3 separate regions of the Homo sapiens genome follow, and all the other regions are reported to be linked to region 3. Evidence: microRNA targets listed by miRTarBase, many of them from high-throughput screens and not tested one by one. Region 3 holds a microRNA gene; each other region holds the end of a gene's coding sequence.

Region 1 (3,119 bases), not on the chromosome of region 3:
CTCAGGAAGGCGAGGGATGCCCATGTACCACTCAGGCTAGGGAGACTTCTGGGCACAGGGAGGATCCTTGAGAACTGCTCTGTCTGGGTGAGGATGCAGGCTGAGGCCTCTGGGGTCCAGATAGGAAGTGAGCAACGGCTGTGTCCCAGGGGAAGCAGGCTGGGAAGGTGTGGGGTGAGGGCAAGGCTCTTGCCATTCAGATCGCGCTGTGATCCGTGGTGTTTCTCCTGTGCAGGTACTGGTGAGGTTTGTCCAATGGCGGCGGCAGCGGCAGCGGCGGCAGCGGCAGCAGCGGCAGCAGTAGCAGCCCCTCCCACAGCTGTGGGCTCCCTCTCGGGGGCGGAGGGGGTGCCTGTGAGCTCTCAGCCACTTCCCTCCCAACCCTGGTGAGCTCCAAGTTGGTTGCGGGGGAGAGGGGAGAATGGAGTAGAGTCCCTTGGTACAAGCTCCTCTCCCCCCTCTTTTCCCACCAACTCCTATTTCCCTACCAACCAAGGAGCCTCCAGAAGGAAAGGAGGAAGAAATGTTTTCTTAGGGGAATTCGCTAGGTTTTAACGATTTGTTTCTCCTGCTCCTCTTCTGTCAGACCTGACCCCACACAAACCTGTCCCCTCGGTTGTGTTGAAGTCCCCTGGACAGTGGGCAGGGGTGGCAGAGGACACGAGCAGCCACTGCCCGTACCCCCTCTCCTCTCTGTAAGCCCATGCCCTGTCTTCCCAGGGACTTGTGAGCCTCTTCCCTCGACGGTCCTCTTCTCTCCTTCCAGTCCTCTCCCCCTGCTGTCTGCAGCCCCTCCCCGGGGAGTTGGTGCTTTCTTTTCCTTTTTTTTTTTTTTCCAGGGGGAGGGAGGAGAGGAAGGAGGGGGATCAGAGCTGTCCCAAAGAGGGAAAGCGGTGAGGTTTGAGGAGGGGCAGAAGCAGGGCCGGCAAAGGTTGTACCTTCATAAGGTGGTATGGGGGGTTGGGGTCAGGCCCTGAACATCGTCCTACTTGAGAATCTGTCAGGGGAAAAAGTCAAGGGGAGCAGGAGGAAGAGCCAGGAGGGCCAGAGGCAGAGAAGAGATGGAGTCTTAGGGGCCAGGGTGAGCGAGGGGTCCAGGGCCTAGAGGTGCTTCCTGGGGGCGGGGGAATGCAGCCAGTGTCCCCCTCCCCTCTTCCACCCCAGCTCCAGCCCTGGTCTTGTCTTTTCATCCCTCTTCCCCACGACAGAAGAAGTTGTGGCCCTGGCCATGTCATCGTGTTCCTGTGTCCCCTGCATGTACCCCACCCTCCACCCCTTCCTTTTGCGCGGACCCCATTACAATAAATTTTAAATAAAATCCTGTTTCTGGCTCTGGATTGAATGAATTGCCCTCACTAAGAACTGCCGCCAACCCCAAGGGTTTCTTCTCGGCCTGGTGTCCGTCAATCCAGCCTTGCTCTGCCCTGTGAGGCTGTGAGGTTCTGGCTCCGCCCTCCCCAGGGGCAGCCTTACTGGCGGCAGCACAGATACAGGGCGGGGCCAAGGCTGTGGCTGTGGAGAGCAAGTTCCAGGTCTCTGGGGAATTCCCAACTCGGACAGGCCCAGAATAGCCCCTGGAGGTTTGAAGAGGCCCCGTCAGAAACCCAAACAGAGCTGCCAGACGGGAATGCCGCCCTCCCCCGTCCACACTCATGGCCGCTGCTCAGCCCCCAGCCGCATCCCTCCCCACGCGCGTCACGGCCCTGAGGCCATGGTGGGTGGATGCGGCTGCGGAAAGGCTGGGGAGTCCGAGCCCTAGGACTGGGAGCAGCGAGGTAGAGAATGAAAGCTGCACCTGTCCCTCATCCTGGGCATGGGCCACTCTGTGTTTACACGGGCTCCTCTGCCCAGCTCCTCCTGCCCCTTGGAATTCCCTTTCCTGTCCCCGCTCCGTCCTTTCCAGGGCCCCTTTTTTGAGCCTTCCAGCGCCAGTTTCTGCCGCTCCTTTCTGCAGGCTCCATTCTCTCCAAACCCCACCCTGCTCCTCCTCTGCAGCCTCCCCGCGTCTTGCCCCATCTTCCTTGCCCTCCTGCTCGTAGAGACGCCTCCACCCGGTCCTGCCTGTCTCACTGGTCCCGTCTCCTCGCAGAACCCTCTCCGTTTCCCCCAAATCCCCGTCTCTTCCAGGAATCCCGGTGACCGTTGGCGGGAGGGGCCGGGGACTTAAGAAGGAGGCGTCTCTCCTGGAGGCGCGCGTGAGAAGGGGCAGGGAGGGGGCGCGAGTGGTCCCCGGGCCGGTTGCCTGGGTAACGCGTGGCTCCCTTGGGCTGGCGGGAGGGGCCGGAGGCTCGCGAGGGGCGGGGGCGGCGACGGCGGCGGAGCGTAGGGGAGGGGACCGGAGAGGAGGGGATGAGCACACGGGAGAGGAGAAGAGGGAGACCCGCCGCCTCCCTCCCTCCCTAGCTGACTTGCTCCCTCCCGGGCTGCGGCTGCTGCAAAAGCCAGCAGCGGCAGCGGGAGCTGTCCGGAGGCCGGCGTCGAGGTGAGACCCGGGCAGACTGAGGCTGCGGGTAGGAGTGGACCGACCGACGGCTGACGCCGGGCGGACTGCACGGGAATGCGGGTGTCTGGAGGGCTGGTGGTGGTGCTGGGCGGGCTGAACCATCGGGAGGAGGCGCCAGCCCACCGAAGGCGAGGGAAGCCCCGGGAGAGGGGCTGACAGGGGATCGAAGGAGATAACCAGGTCCCCCAGAAAGGGGCGGGAGCGTCCTCGCCCTAAACGCGCAGCAAGAAAACCCGCACCGCCTGGGAGCCCAGGGAGGAGGGGAGGATGCAGAGGGAGTGGAATGCGAATGTCGGGTCCTCTGCCCAGTCGGCCTGTCGGAGTGCTATTTGCACAGCTCGTTGATTTTGGGGTGCTGGGATCTGAGAGTCTGGATCTTGTTGGATGGACCCAGGGAGAGACCCTGGAGAAGGTCCTGTTTACAAAAGGGTTAATCTTCCCCAGGGCTCTCCAAGCAGAAGACTTTGAGTAGAGCACTCCTCCCGCAGGGATGTCCCACCCTAAGGCAAAGGAAACCCCAACTTTTCTTCCTCTCCCTAGAGGCAGTGCAAGGCTGGCCCTGAGACAGGAATGTGGCCCAATTGGGCCTGCAGTGCTGAGCGCCCTCTTCCCTCCT
Region 2 (3,119 bases), not on the chromosome of region 3:
AGCTCTTACCATGCTGCTTTGGCCTACCTCCCTGAAATCTGCTACCTTGTCACTTGGGCTGAGGTTAGAGCATCAAGAAGGGCAGTGGGGCTATGGGCATACCCCTCAAAAGCTCCGAAGGGAGGGTCAGCCTTCATGGAGAACACATGTTGGTATGTTCATGATTCTGTGGGTTTAGTGTGGAAAACCACAGAAACTCCCAGTTTTGAGGCCTGCCAAGATATGGGGTTCAGAAGGGAGGAGGTGTGGGCATTGCCTGCTGATGAGTCACACTGGGGCGAGAGGAGACCTGCCTCACCTTCAGGCTATGGTAGCAGCTATAGCCACCCAGCCTAAGAAAGATGAAGTCTCAGATTGCACATCCTCTTCAAGTCCTGATGAGTCCTGATTGCCACTGCTATGGCAGTTTCTAGCGTGTTAGGGTTCACTGGCATCTCAAAGGCCCTCTTCGAGAGGGAAACTGGAGATGAAGGGTACAAGGTGACATGTCCAGGTTCCCTAGGCTGATTGATGGCAAAGTCAAGACCAGAACCGGGATCTGCACCTCCCCACCCCTATAATTCTCTGATACCGAATGAAGTTTTAGATGCCTTTAGAGGTGCTGGTGATTGGGCTAAGAAACTTAAGGGCTTGCTTAGGGGAGGGAAACATGATCAGGCTTAAGGGGGCAAGGTACTTTGTGCTTCAGAAGTATTTGTGACAGCTGTGACTAAGGGATTCGAAGAAGTGGCAGGAAGAGAGATTTATGGCCCTCCAACTCCCTCCCTTGGTGTTGACCCAGCAACAGGTGTGTAGTGACAGGGACACATAAAGCCAGAGACAAGGCTGAACAGGCGGCAGGGCCATTTGGTGAGACAGTCAGCTGACCCCGTGTAGAAAGAGCCCTGACTCACTGGGGAGTGGGAGAGGAAGACAAGTCCGAGGCCGAGCACTGCCCACCCTGACGTGATGGCAGGGGAGAGCCCAGGGCCACGGACCTGGTAAGCATTCCTAAGAATACGGAGGCTGGTGCTGGGAAAAGCAGAAACCCAGTATTGGGGAGAGAGGTTTCTGGGGTGAGGTGGGGCCAGGAGACCCTGCAGAGTAGCAAGGCCAGGCAGATTGTCTTTGTAGTGGTCCTGGTGGATGTGGGGCCTGCAGCATTAAGCTGGGTGAAGAAGGCGCCACGCTGCACCTCTTATCCCATACTCATTGTCTAAGCCACTGTCCACCCTGCCCACTACTCATTTCTTTGGGGCTCCTGGATGGAGACCTGAAGTAAGGCTTTGTGTTCTGAAATCACCCCCTTGGTCCCTAGTACCTCTTTGGAGGGCTACTCCCACCTTTTTCCCCTCCTCTCATCTTTCCCAAAGTGATACTTGCTTTGGCCCCTTATCCTAAGACCACAAGTAAAGCACCTATCCCTTTGGGGAGGGGGAAGTGGTCCCTTATTCCAGGACCACAAGTGAAGATGTCAGCCTTTCTCTTTGGGGAGAGGGGGAGATGGTCCTTTATCACAGGACAGCATTGAGATGGGGTTGGGTGTGTGAGGGGCCCAGCTTATTGCAATTTTGATGGCCCTCCTTTTCCTCCCTCCCCCAAGCAGTGTGCCTGTTCCACAGTGGGCACATCAGCTGAGTCTTAGAAGTGTATGTTGATGCCGCTAAAGAAATCACAAGAGACAAAGTTTTGGTGCGCCTCTACTGCACCGCAGGGTCCTGGGACACTGTGCGAGACAGGGGAGGTACTTTTTTTATTTTTTGTAGAGGTGGTCCCTGTCCTCCAGGAGCTTACAATCTAGCTGGGGAGACACAACTAATGCACACTTAAACAATCAGTACAATTAGCGATTACCACAATATTGACCACAACTGCATGAGACCAGGGAAAAGCAAGATCAGTGAGGGGCAAGGGGGGTTCAGAGAAAGTGTTTTAGTAAAGGTGGGATTCATTTACTTTTACTGCTTGAATAGTTCCAAATCAAGTGACACATTATTTTGGAGTAGGGTGGGCTTGGGAGGCAGTGAGGAGGAAAGGGGAATCGAGAGAGCAAATGCAGCGAGGCTGGAATGCAAGTGCCCTGGGCAAGGGACAGCGAGAGGGCCCCACTGTATTTCTTAACCACCCTCCTTCCTCAACTGTGCCCTCCAGTCCCGCCACACAGGCACGCGGTTGGTGCTGCACCAAGATTCAGGGCGTCGGCTGGCGATGTCAGAATGTCCATTCTGCTGGCTGGTGCGGTGTTTTGATTTCCATGGTGGGGCCTGCTGGCATGGCCCTGGCTTCGGGGCTGGGATGGTGCTGTCCCGACTTTGTCCAGATCAGAATGCGGTGCCTATGCCCAGATCTCAGGGGTCTGCTCCCCCTATCCCCCCTCCTCTCTCGACCCTGCCCCTTAGTGGGACCGGTGCAAAGGGGTTGGGAAGGGATCTGGTATCTTCGTCATTGTCGGTACTGCTTCTCCGGGGGTCTACTGGCCCCTCACTGACCTTGCCAAGTGCTCCTCTGGCGAGGGAACACAGGGGACCCCACATTCCTGCGCGGCACTGGCTCCCGTGCTGGCCGAGATGCACAGGAGCACCTGATGATACGGCCGCCCAGGGCTGGGAGCTGGGGCCTCAGTTGGGGGCTCGCTGCCTGCGCTCCCCCAACACCTGCCGCCCGGTCCGCGACACCGTGTATGCCAGCTTCTGCAGGGAGTACCTGAACACCTGCGACGAGAAACCCAGGACCCACCCTTAGTGGAGAGCACCCACAGCATGTCTGTGGTGCTGCCGTGCCCACCCCCGCCCCACCCCCTGCCCCGCCCGCCCATCCAGCGTAGGCTGGAGAGGCGGGCGCGGGCGCAGCTTGTCCACGAGTCAGGGCAGCTGGAGCTTTTCCAACTGTGCTGAGAGCTGCATGGCGGCAAGCTGATTGGACCCACAACTTAGGTATACCTCACTTCTCGCAATGGGCTGTGTCCCTGGAGGATTTCGAAAAGCGAATCCTACCCAGTAAATGCAGCATTCCAGGAACACCTTGAAGGAAATATGCGATTCCTTTGGCAAAGGATTCCTTTAGCAGGGAATTCTTCCTGCAAAGGGAGCTTTTAGGGTAAATGATTTTATGGGCAAAGCGCTTTCTTCTGATTTATCTCT
Region 3 (8,391 bases):
TCACCCTTAAACAATCATAGAGTAGAATGGATCAAAGGATAGTTGAGGTACAGTTTGGATCCCCTACTATATTGTTCTTATTCCCTTAATTACAACCTTAGATTTAGCTTATATATTCCATGACTCTGGCAATGACTACATTATGCCATGTTCTGTCCTCCCCAAGTGGACATTTCTGAATGCTTTTTGAGGGCATCAGAGTTCTACTCTGGCCGTTTTCTGTCCTTAAGTTTCAACAATGACACAGATTTTAAAGTTCTTTTGTCTTAAAGACAGAAAGGAAAAGATGTATAAATCGGGTTATATAAAGAGTCGAGTTTTCTACAAGGCAAAGCATCTCATAAAGTCAAAAGAAGAAAAACAAACTGAGAAAGTATTTGCCACATTCACAACAAAGGGCTAACGATATACTTATGGAGAACTATGACAAACCAGTAAGAAAAAGACCAGCAACCATTAGAAAAACAAAGAAAATGAAGAAAATGACAAGAACCAATTATTCATGAGATGATATTTAATCTTACAAAAGGAATAATGAATATAAAAAATAAAACAAGGAGTTACCATTTTTCCTCTATCAGAGGCCAAAAAGTTCGAAGGCACAATGTTTGCAAGAATGTAGGGAAATGGATATGCTCAGTTTATGTACTTTTGGCAGTCATGCATACTGGTGCAACTTCTTTGACTTTATAGGCAATCATAGGCAAATTTATAAATGTACACACCCTCTTAAGAGGATGGTTTTATTCACTGTATTTTCTGTGATACAATTTGGATTTTTACCATGTACACATATTATTTTTTCAGTAAAAAAGTTAAATCATTAGGAAAACATTAATTCTCATTGACAGGAAGACCCTCCTTCCTATTCATACAGCAACATTTTACTTCCTATGTCACACCATGCAACAGCCCCCAGCAGCAGTAGGCCAGAGTTGTTTTCATGTCCCATATCCCAGCTAGGATTATTCCAGGGCTCTGAAGGCATCTGCTTAGATCTATCTATGCATTCATATTTTTTCCCTTCCTTCCTTCCCCTTATTTCAGAAATAATTCAAGAGGACTGATGATAACTTGATAAAGAAGCTCTAAAATAAAGCTGATCAAAGTAACATACTTCTTTGCACAATTCGTAATATTAAATTTTGATGAAAGGAAACTTAGCTTCTGAATTATGCTTAGTTTAATAATGTTGCACTTCCTGAATACATACATACTATAACAGCAGAAAAAGTTTTCCCAGAACATGGTGGAAGGTTGGGAAGTTAGCCAAAATTTAAAAGTGGTTGTGGACAAGGTACCCTTCAAACTGGGTTTAAGATTCCCTTCTGAGAATGAAAATTTGAAGAATCAAACTGTAAGAGCAGTAATCTGTAGCAATCACATAACAAAAAAGATTGCCTTTTAATATTTGATTAGCATTTGGGTAATATCCCAAATCCAATCAAAGTGATCCAGCTATAATTTTAGGAAAGCAAAACTTCCACATGACTGAACCGAAGAAACCTTAAACCTCATTGACTATAATATGCTCTTTTGGGAGGCAGAATTATTGTGGGTGGAGAGTGCATGATACATATGAAAATGGCAGGTTGGAAAGCGTTAGTCATGTGTCCCCAAGCAAAAGAGGTTTTAACCAGCTAACGTTCAGCCCACTTGGAACTGTTTACCCCCATGGAATGTGTGTATCAAGGAAGTGCCATTAAGGTTATTTAGCCTGTCCCTGGCAATGATTCCATGTTCCCTGTACTACCTTCCCATGTTTATTTGCCTTCTCACAGGCTACTGCAGTCAGCCTCACTGGATGCCATTTAGTCTCCTAAATCATATGGGGGATTTACGAGTCATTTAATTTAATGTCTTCCCAATACAGGAATGCACCTGCTATGGTTTGAATGTTTATGTCCCCCAAAATTCATATGTTAAAATTGAATCCCCAAAGCAATGGTATTGAGAGGTGAGGCTCTTGGGAGATGATTAGGTCATCAAAGTTTAACCCTCATGAATGGGTAAGTGCCCTTATAAAAGAGGCCTAAGGGAGTTTGTTCACCCTTTTCACCATGTGGGGATGCATCAAAAAGGTGCATTCTTTGAAGCAGGCAAGCTTCAACAAGCCGTCATCAGACACTGAATCTGCTGGTACCTTGATCTTAGGCTTCCCAGCCTTCAGAACTGTGAGCAATACATTTCTGTTGCCTATAATTACCCAGTCTGAGGCATTTTGTTATAGCAACTTGAAGGGACTAAGACACTTTCTGACTTGTCATCACCTTCTACTCCAGACCCACTATCCATGATCCTTTCAAAGAAACTTGTTCTACCAGTCCCCGAGTAAACTTTCCATCCAAGCTGTAGTCCCAGGAGAAACTCTTCAGTCCTTTTTAAGGCTCCTGAAACTCAAATCCACTCTTAGGAAGTAAATGGGTAATGTTCTCACGACTTTATTTGGCCTTAATTGGGGGAAAGGAAACCAATAAAACCATCACTTTAATTTCTTTATTCATCAATAGTATCCGAAAAGGAAGAATCAGGAGTTACAAAAACAAGTTAAATGCAATATAGAAGCCTACTAAATACAAATACAAGTTCACAAACACATATGCAACAGAAACTTGTTTAGATTGTTTCTTGAAGTTTGACTACTTAAAAACATAGGTGTAAAGGAAAGACATTCAGACTGGTCCACGTGGGCTTGTTAGCAGGCAGAGGAACCCTGCTTTCCAAAAACTGATATAGTCCAGAGTCACGGCATGTGGGAATGTTTCCATGGACACTGGATCTTAACAGATGCTATAGTGTTTACAAAACTACACACACAGAGAAAGCCCAAGGAAGCCTGCAGGCTAAGCCCTATGCTTTTAGAGGGCTGAAGGAACCAAACCTAGTTTAATCCTGTTTGTTTGCTCCATGCAAAACTTTATGGAAGACTCCCCAGACTAGGCTATTTAGCAGCTTCCATGAATGGTCCTCAGATCATGTGATTCTACGGCATAGACGACAGCTGCCCTATTTACACAGAAGCTGCAGAACTCAAGAGGAATGTGGATTTGCTCTTGGGAGTTCAATGTTGCAGGGTAGAGTAGTCTTGGATGATAACCATGTTCTAAATGACTAGTGAAGAGACACTGTGGTTTCTTGCTTTTAACAAATTGGTGTACTCTTGCCCTCCTCCCATAGTGTCCAAGGGCTGGTAAAACCTTTGATTAAGGCGTGCTGCTGTGAGTTCTCCAAGGCACTTGGACAGGGAGCTGCATTTCAGACTGAACAAGTGGAGTTTGAAGAGTTTTTAGATGGGATGGATACATAAAAGCTTGAAATGCTAAACAAAGTGGAATTTTCTCCTTTCAAATGAGAACAAGAAAAACTAGAAGGAATTCTATTTTTGGCACAACAGTTTCTCACAGTTGCCTGTGCATTACAACCTAAATAATTTCCTTCTGATGGTCTTTAATCTGCTTTCTGCAAATGAGATCTTATGTCAAGGATTTAATCTTTGGTATTCCAAATGCATCTGAAACAGGGTAGTGAGTGGGGTTAATAATCACAGAAGTCGAAAGACACAGGACTAACTGTAAATGACTGACCTCCCCAAGTCACAGTTTTAGGATTAAATCTCCATTTTCTTCCCCCTGTTGAATCTGAAACTTTCTTTTATCCTCATCTCTAAGGGAATGCTTTCTATTTCCAGCCGGAGGTTAAACATGAAATGCAAATATGAAGACAGAGTGGGGTGGTTCTCTTTCCCACTCTCTTCCTGCTTTACCCATGAGGACTCCATATCATAGCACGACCTGTAGGGTCATCAGGCTGAGATCAAATCTGGTCATCTTGTTTTTGGCCATCTGACATTTCTTGTTCTAGTAACAAGATTTCATTTATTCTATAGAGAAGAAGGAAAAATCACAGGAACCTATCTCCCCTCTGGACCAATGATCAGAACCACAGAATTTATAACTTATCAAATCAAAAGGTTAGTGCATTCTTACCAGCTCACTGAGGAAACTGAGGTCCAGAAAAAAGAAGAGACAGGGCCAACTCACCCTCCTAGTTAGTCGAATGAGCATATTGGTAGGCTGGGATATCCTAAGCCCTGCTTGGCTGCCCTTGTCGCCATCCTTGGGAATACTGATTTGCCTCAACTTCTCAGAATAAATAAAAACAAATTAATGTTTGGATCTTGAAAGTTTTTTATGAAGATGCTTCTTCCCCTGGCTTCGGTCTAAGGCACCCTTGCTCCTCTGGCAGATAGTGGACTGCTGGAAGCTAGGGGGGCCAACTATGGGCTGCATCTAGTATGTGGCAGGGTGGGGGCATCTGGGTTATTTCAGCCCCTGCACCAGGAAGAACCCCAAACTCCTTCCACCTATGAAGTGGTGGGACTACTGAAAAATAATTACAAAAGCTTAATACCTAGTCAAGAAAATAAAATATTAAAAAACAATAATATAATGATAATAATTGAAGAATAAAGTCAACTTGCCAAAAAAAAGTGTTTTACAGAGAAATAGCACCTTTGGTAAAAAGTATTTTTAAAATTTGGTTAGGTCGCTAAGGGGCTCAAAGTATACAAGTATCTGCATCATTTGGGTGTACCCTCCCAGAAACTCCATCCAAGTCTGAGGGACACTGGGTTAACTAGCAGTATGGCTATGTATCTAGAGGCAGTTATTGGGACCAAGAGATGCGTGGATGCTGGAGGTCTGTCATGCTGACGGCAATGGAAAGAGGCTGGAAGCAGAGAGCGTTCCTCTCCGTGGAGCTTCCCAAACCTCTCCTCCGGGGACACCCTGCTAAGTTCTCTCTGGCATCGTGTGCACTCCCTGCAGCCTGCTGACAGATGCAGTAAACTCAAAAGAGGTTCAGATTTGGGTCTGTTCCTCTTTCAATCGTGATGCAGTTTCCTTACTAGCCTCCAGCCCCAGAGCACCATTTACAGTTTCTCTTAAAGCACTCCTAGAAATGAAGGCTGTGGCCCTTCCCTTCCTAGCCAGCCACCTTCATATCCTTTATTGCAAAACAAATAAACAAAATAAAACTCATTGCTATATAAGCAAATACTGGTGATTTGGCGACTGTAGCAGACACTTGTGTATACTGAACTCAGCGCTGAAGTGGAGAAGATGCTGGGATCCAGACACTGGTCTGTGCCTCCTCATTAGATCTCTTTGGTGCTCACTCTCTTGGTCTTTTCAGCTGTTTCCTTTGAGATGCAAGAGAAAATAGGCGTCATGGAAATATTAAACAACTGTTGGAATTTATCTGTTCCTCAAGACTATATAGCATTGGCATTTACAAGCTTATGCTGAATTTTAGTTGTTTACTTGTCGGGCTCCTCCACGGACAATGAACAATTTGAGAACAAGAACTATGGCCTATTCATGACATGGTCATGCAGGGGCTGTTTACTGAATTAAGCTGACTCCATTTGGACTCCTATGAAACAAGCAGATCAGACATTATGGTTCCCATTTTAAGGATGAAGAAAATGATGTTAAATGGAAATGCTACAAGATGTTCTTAATCCAACAAGTCCAAAGAAGTGTTAAGTACAACAGGTTCTGGAGGCAGACTGCCTGAGCTTCAACCATGGCTGTGCTACTTTTTGGGTGACCTTGGGCATATTATGAAATCTTCTGTGTCTCAATGTCTTCAACTGCAAAACCACAGTAATAAAGTACCATCTCTTACAACAGTGCCTGGCACAAAATGGCCAATAAGGACATAAGAAGATGCTCAACATCATTAATCACACGGGAAATGCAAATCAAAACCACTTGACACCCGCTAGGACAGCTAAAATAAAAAATAGCAATAACAAAACCGTTGGTGAGTATGTGAAGAAATTGGAACTCTATGGTGAAGATGTACAGTGGTGCAGTAGCTTTGGAAACCAGTTTGGCCATTTCTCCAAAGGTTAAACATGGAGTCACCGTATGACCCAGCAATTCCACTTCTAGGTAAATACCCAAGAGAGCTGACAACATGTGTCCACACAAAAACTTGTGCGAAAATGTTCCTAACAGCTTTATTTATCAGAGCCCCCAAATTGAAACAACCTAAATATCCATTAAATGATGAATGGATAACACAACATGTGGTATATTCGTATCATGGAATATTACTCAGCCATAAATAGGAAAGAAGTACTGATTCATGCTGTAAGAATGAACCTTGAAAACATTATGCTAAGTCAAAGACAGAAAAGGCTATACTGTTGTATGATACCACTGTAATATGTCCAGAACAGGCAAATTTATAGTTAGAAAGTAGATTAGTGGCTGCAAAGGGCTGGAGGAAGATGAGAATGGAGGGTTACTTCTAATGGGTATGGGATTTCTTTCTGGGATAATGAAAATGTTCTGGAATTAAGATAGTAGTGAGATGATTGACAATCTTAGGAATATACACTTTAAAGGGGTGAATTTTATGGTATATGAATCATATCTCAATTAAAGAAATAAATTTTTAAAACCTGACAACATTGCCTGATATCTAGCAGACACTGGTGTTCCATCCATCGCCCCTTTGTGTTTAATGTCTTGGTGTACACTGGCATGACTTCCTACCTACTGCCAGCACCTGCATCTCTGCCTGAGGCCTTTCTCTGGCTGCTGGAGCCCACTCTGTCCACACACACTGATAGGCCACAAATGCCAGGGAATTAACATTTCCCAGTAGCAGCCCTCAGCCAATGGCTAATGGGAGTTCTTGTAGAAACAGCCCAGCTTCATCCCCACTCAGGCACTGTTATTCCATTCCCAGAGATCCCCAATAGGATTAAGAGTCACTTGTTAACAGTGGTAACATGCCTGAATACACACTCTTCATTACTTCCTTCTCTTTCTGGACTCATTTCCCAAATCTCCCTCTGGTGTTTCCTGGCATTGCTTCCCAAATAAACTATGTGTACTTGCATCCTTGCCTCAGCATCTGCTCTGAGGGGACTCACATCAAACACAGAAACTTAAACATATTAGCTACTATAATTCACTCTGTACTGTCTGATAACTGTACTGTCTGATATTCTAGACGAAAGTAATTCCTATGAAGTTTTTTTCTCTTTCATGGGATTGAACTCATTTGGAGACTCAAGACTGGTGAAATTTGAAAAGCAAAAGACTAGAAGCTTTTGCTTCTGCTTAAACAACCGACATGAGATTTCTATACTATCAGTGACAATGATGACAAAATGCACATTAAGAATGATCAATAAATGGGCAATTACTATTAATAGTAATAGTTCTGTTTACTCATGTCAAATATTTCATATCAATAGTTTAGCAGTTCTTGTGACCATTATATTCCTTAAAAACTTCTATGTCAGAGAGAAGGCTAATACTACTACATTCGGTCTACGGACAGGTAATGGAAGGTGCAATATCCTGTATTAAGACTACATAATAAGCCAGTAGGAGGATGGGCCAGGAGTTCAACAGTTCCACAATATGTCAGAGCATCACTATTCTGCTAAGAACCCTTTCCCCAAGGAAGCCTTTAACTTAATGACATAGAACCTGAACAAAATTCTTATTATCTTCTTGAGTCTCTGGGAAGGAGACTCTTTGTTAACCCCAGGCTATTTTCTAGCCAGACTGATGTTGAACTTAAATCCTTTCTGCTGTGGCCCAAATCCACTGCTTTCATGCTCACTGAGTGCTGACTACATACCAGGCCCTGTGAGACTGCAAGGGTACAATGATGAGCAAGTTACAGAGCCTGCTTTCAGGAGCTCACAGTCTTTGGGTCTGGACACTGGTCATGACAGGATACACACTTCCTTAAACCACGCTCATTTGCAAACCACTTCCACCTCATTTGCAAATCACCACCTGCCTGATTTTGCCTTATGCAGCCACTCACCGAGCTGTAACCTATATGTGTTGAGACCTACTGGGCCCTGTGAGGACTTTATCAGGGAACTGTCTGTATCACAGTTTGATAGTACAGGTGATGGGGTATCACTCAAGATGTACTGTATTGAGCAGAGAGAGCCTCCTTGGTCTCCTGGGGCACTGGGCAGTGTTTGAATGGTATAGGGCCTGATGGCAACAGCAACACCTGAACCAGCACGGAGGCTGCCACTCACCTGATGCTTTTGGAGCTCCTGGACATATCTGGTCATCTCCTCCTCTGTCTGGGTCTGGGCCCCCTTCTGATTCTTTCCTGCAAGAAGAACCAAAGCTCAGAGCAGTAGCAGCTGTGGTAAGCCAGTGAGGAATCCGCCAAGATCTACCTAGAGGCTCTCAATTCATCTCCCATTTAACTTGTGGAAGGAGAGGTGAATTACCCACATTTTCTGAGTATGAAGGCATGAAGGGGCCCTGTGTAATTGATACCTCCAAGGTAACACATTGTAACAAAGCAATCTACCCCAACTCCTCTCTGGCCTTT

Evidence for each region. The annotated mature microRNA hsa-miR-198 reads GGUCCAGAGGGGAGAUAGGUUC and lies in region 3 at 3,907-3,928, opposite strand. An mRNA with a match to its seed (bases 2 to 7 or 8) in the 3' UTR can be bound and repressed. Matches are read on the target gene's strand: a 7mer-m8 pairs with bases 2 to 8, a 7mer-A1 pairs with bases 2 to 7 and ends in A, and an 8mer does both.
Region 1: miRTarBase lists MAZ as a target of hsa-miR-198. Seed matches in the 3' UTR shown: 7mer-A1 at 632-638.
Region 2: miRTarBase lists NNAT as a target of hsa-miR-198. Seed matches in the 3' UTR shown: 8mer at 2,293-2,300.

Annotation. Positions count from the first base shown.
Region 1 is chr16:29,809,842-29,812,960 of GRCh38, forward strand. It overlaps MAZ (MYC associated zinc finger protein), which reads left to right. Exons shown (of 5, transcript NM_002383.4): 5 at 236-1,323. The coding sequence ends at 390. It overlaps PRRT2 (proline rich transmembrane protein 2), which reads left to right and starts at 2,352. Exons shown (of 4, transcript NM_145239.3): 1 at 2,352-2,482. MVP-DT (MVP divergent transcript) reads right to left here. Exons shown (of 4, transcript NR_186424.1): 3 at 194-332. RefSeq lists silencers at 1,725-1,804, 2,205-2,354.
Region 2 is chr20:37,522,238-37,525,356 of GRCh38, reverse strand. NNAT (neuronatin) reads right to left here. Exons shown (of 3, transcript NM_005386.4): 2 at 2,919-2,999; 3 at 1,667-2,690. The coding sequence ends at 2,598. All of the region lies in intron 1 of BLCAP (BLCAP apoptosis inducing factor), which reads left to right. Among named protein-coding and RNA genes, the nearest start is that of NNAT, 2.5 kb to the right of the region's middle.
Region 3 is chr3:120,391,797-120,400,187 of GRCh38, forward strand. MIR198 (microRNA 198) reads right to left here and starts at 3,933; the gene lies at 3,872-3,933. It overlaps FSTL1 (follistatin like 1), which reads right to left. Exons shown (of 11, transcript NM_007085.5): 10 at 8,087-8,163; 11 at 497-5,200. The coding sequence ends at 5,156. It also overlaps the pseudogene BTNL12P. RefSeq lists a silencer at 7,704-7,823 and an enhancer at 7,914-7,963.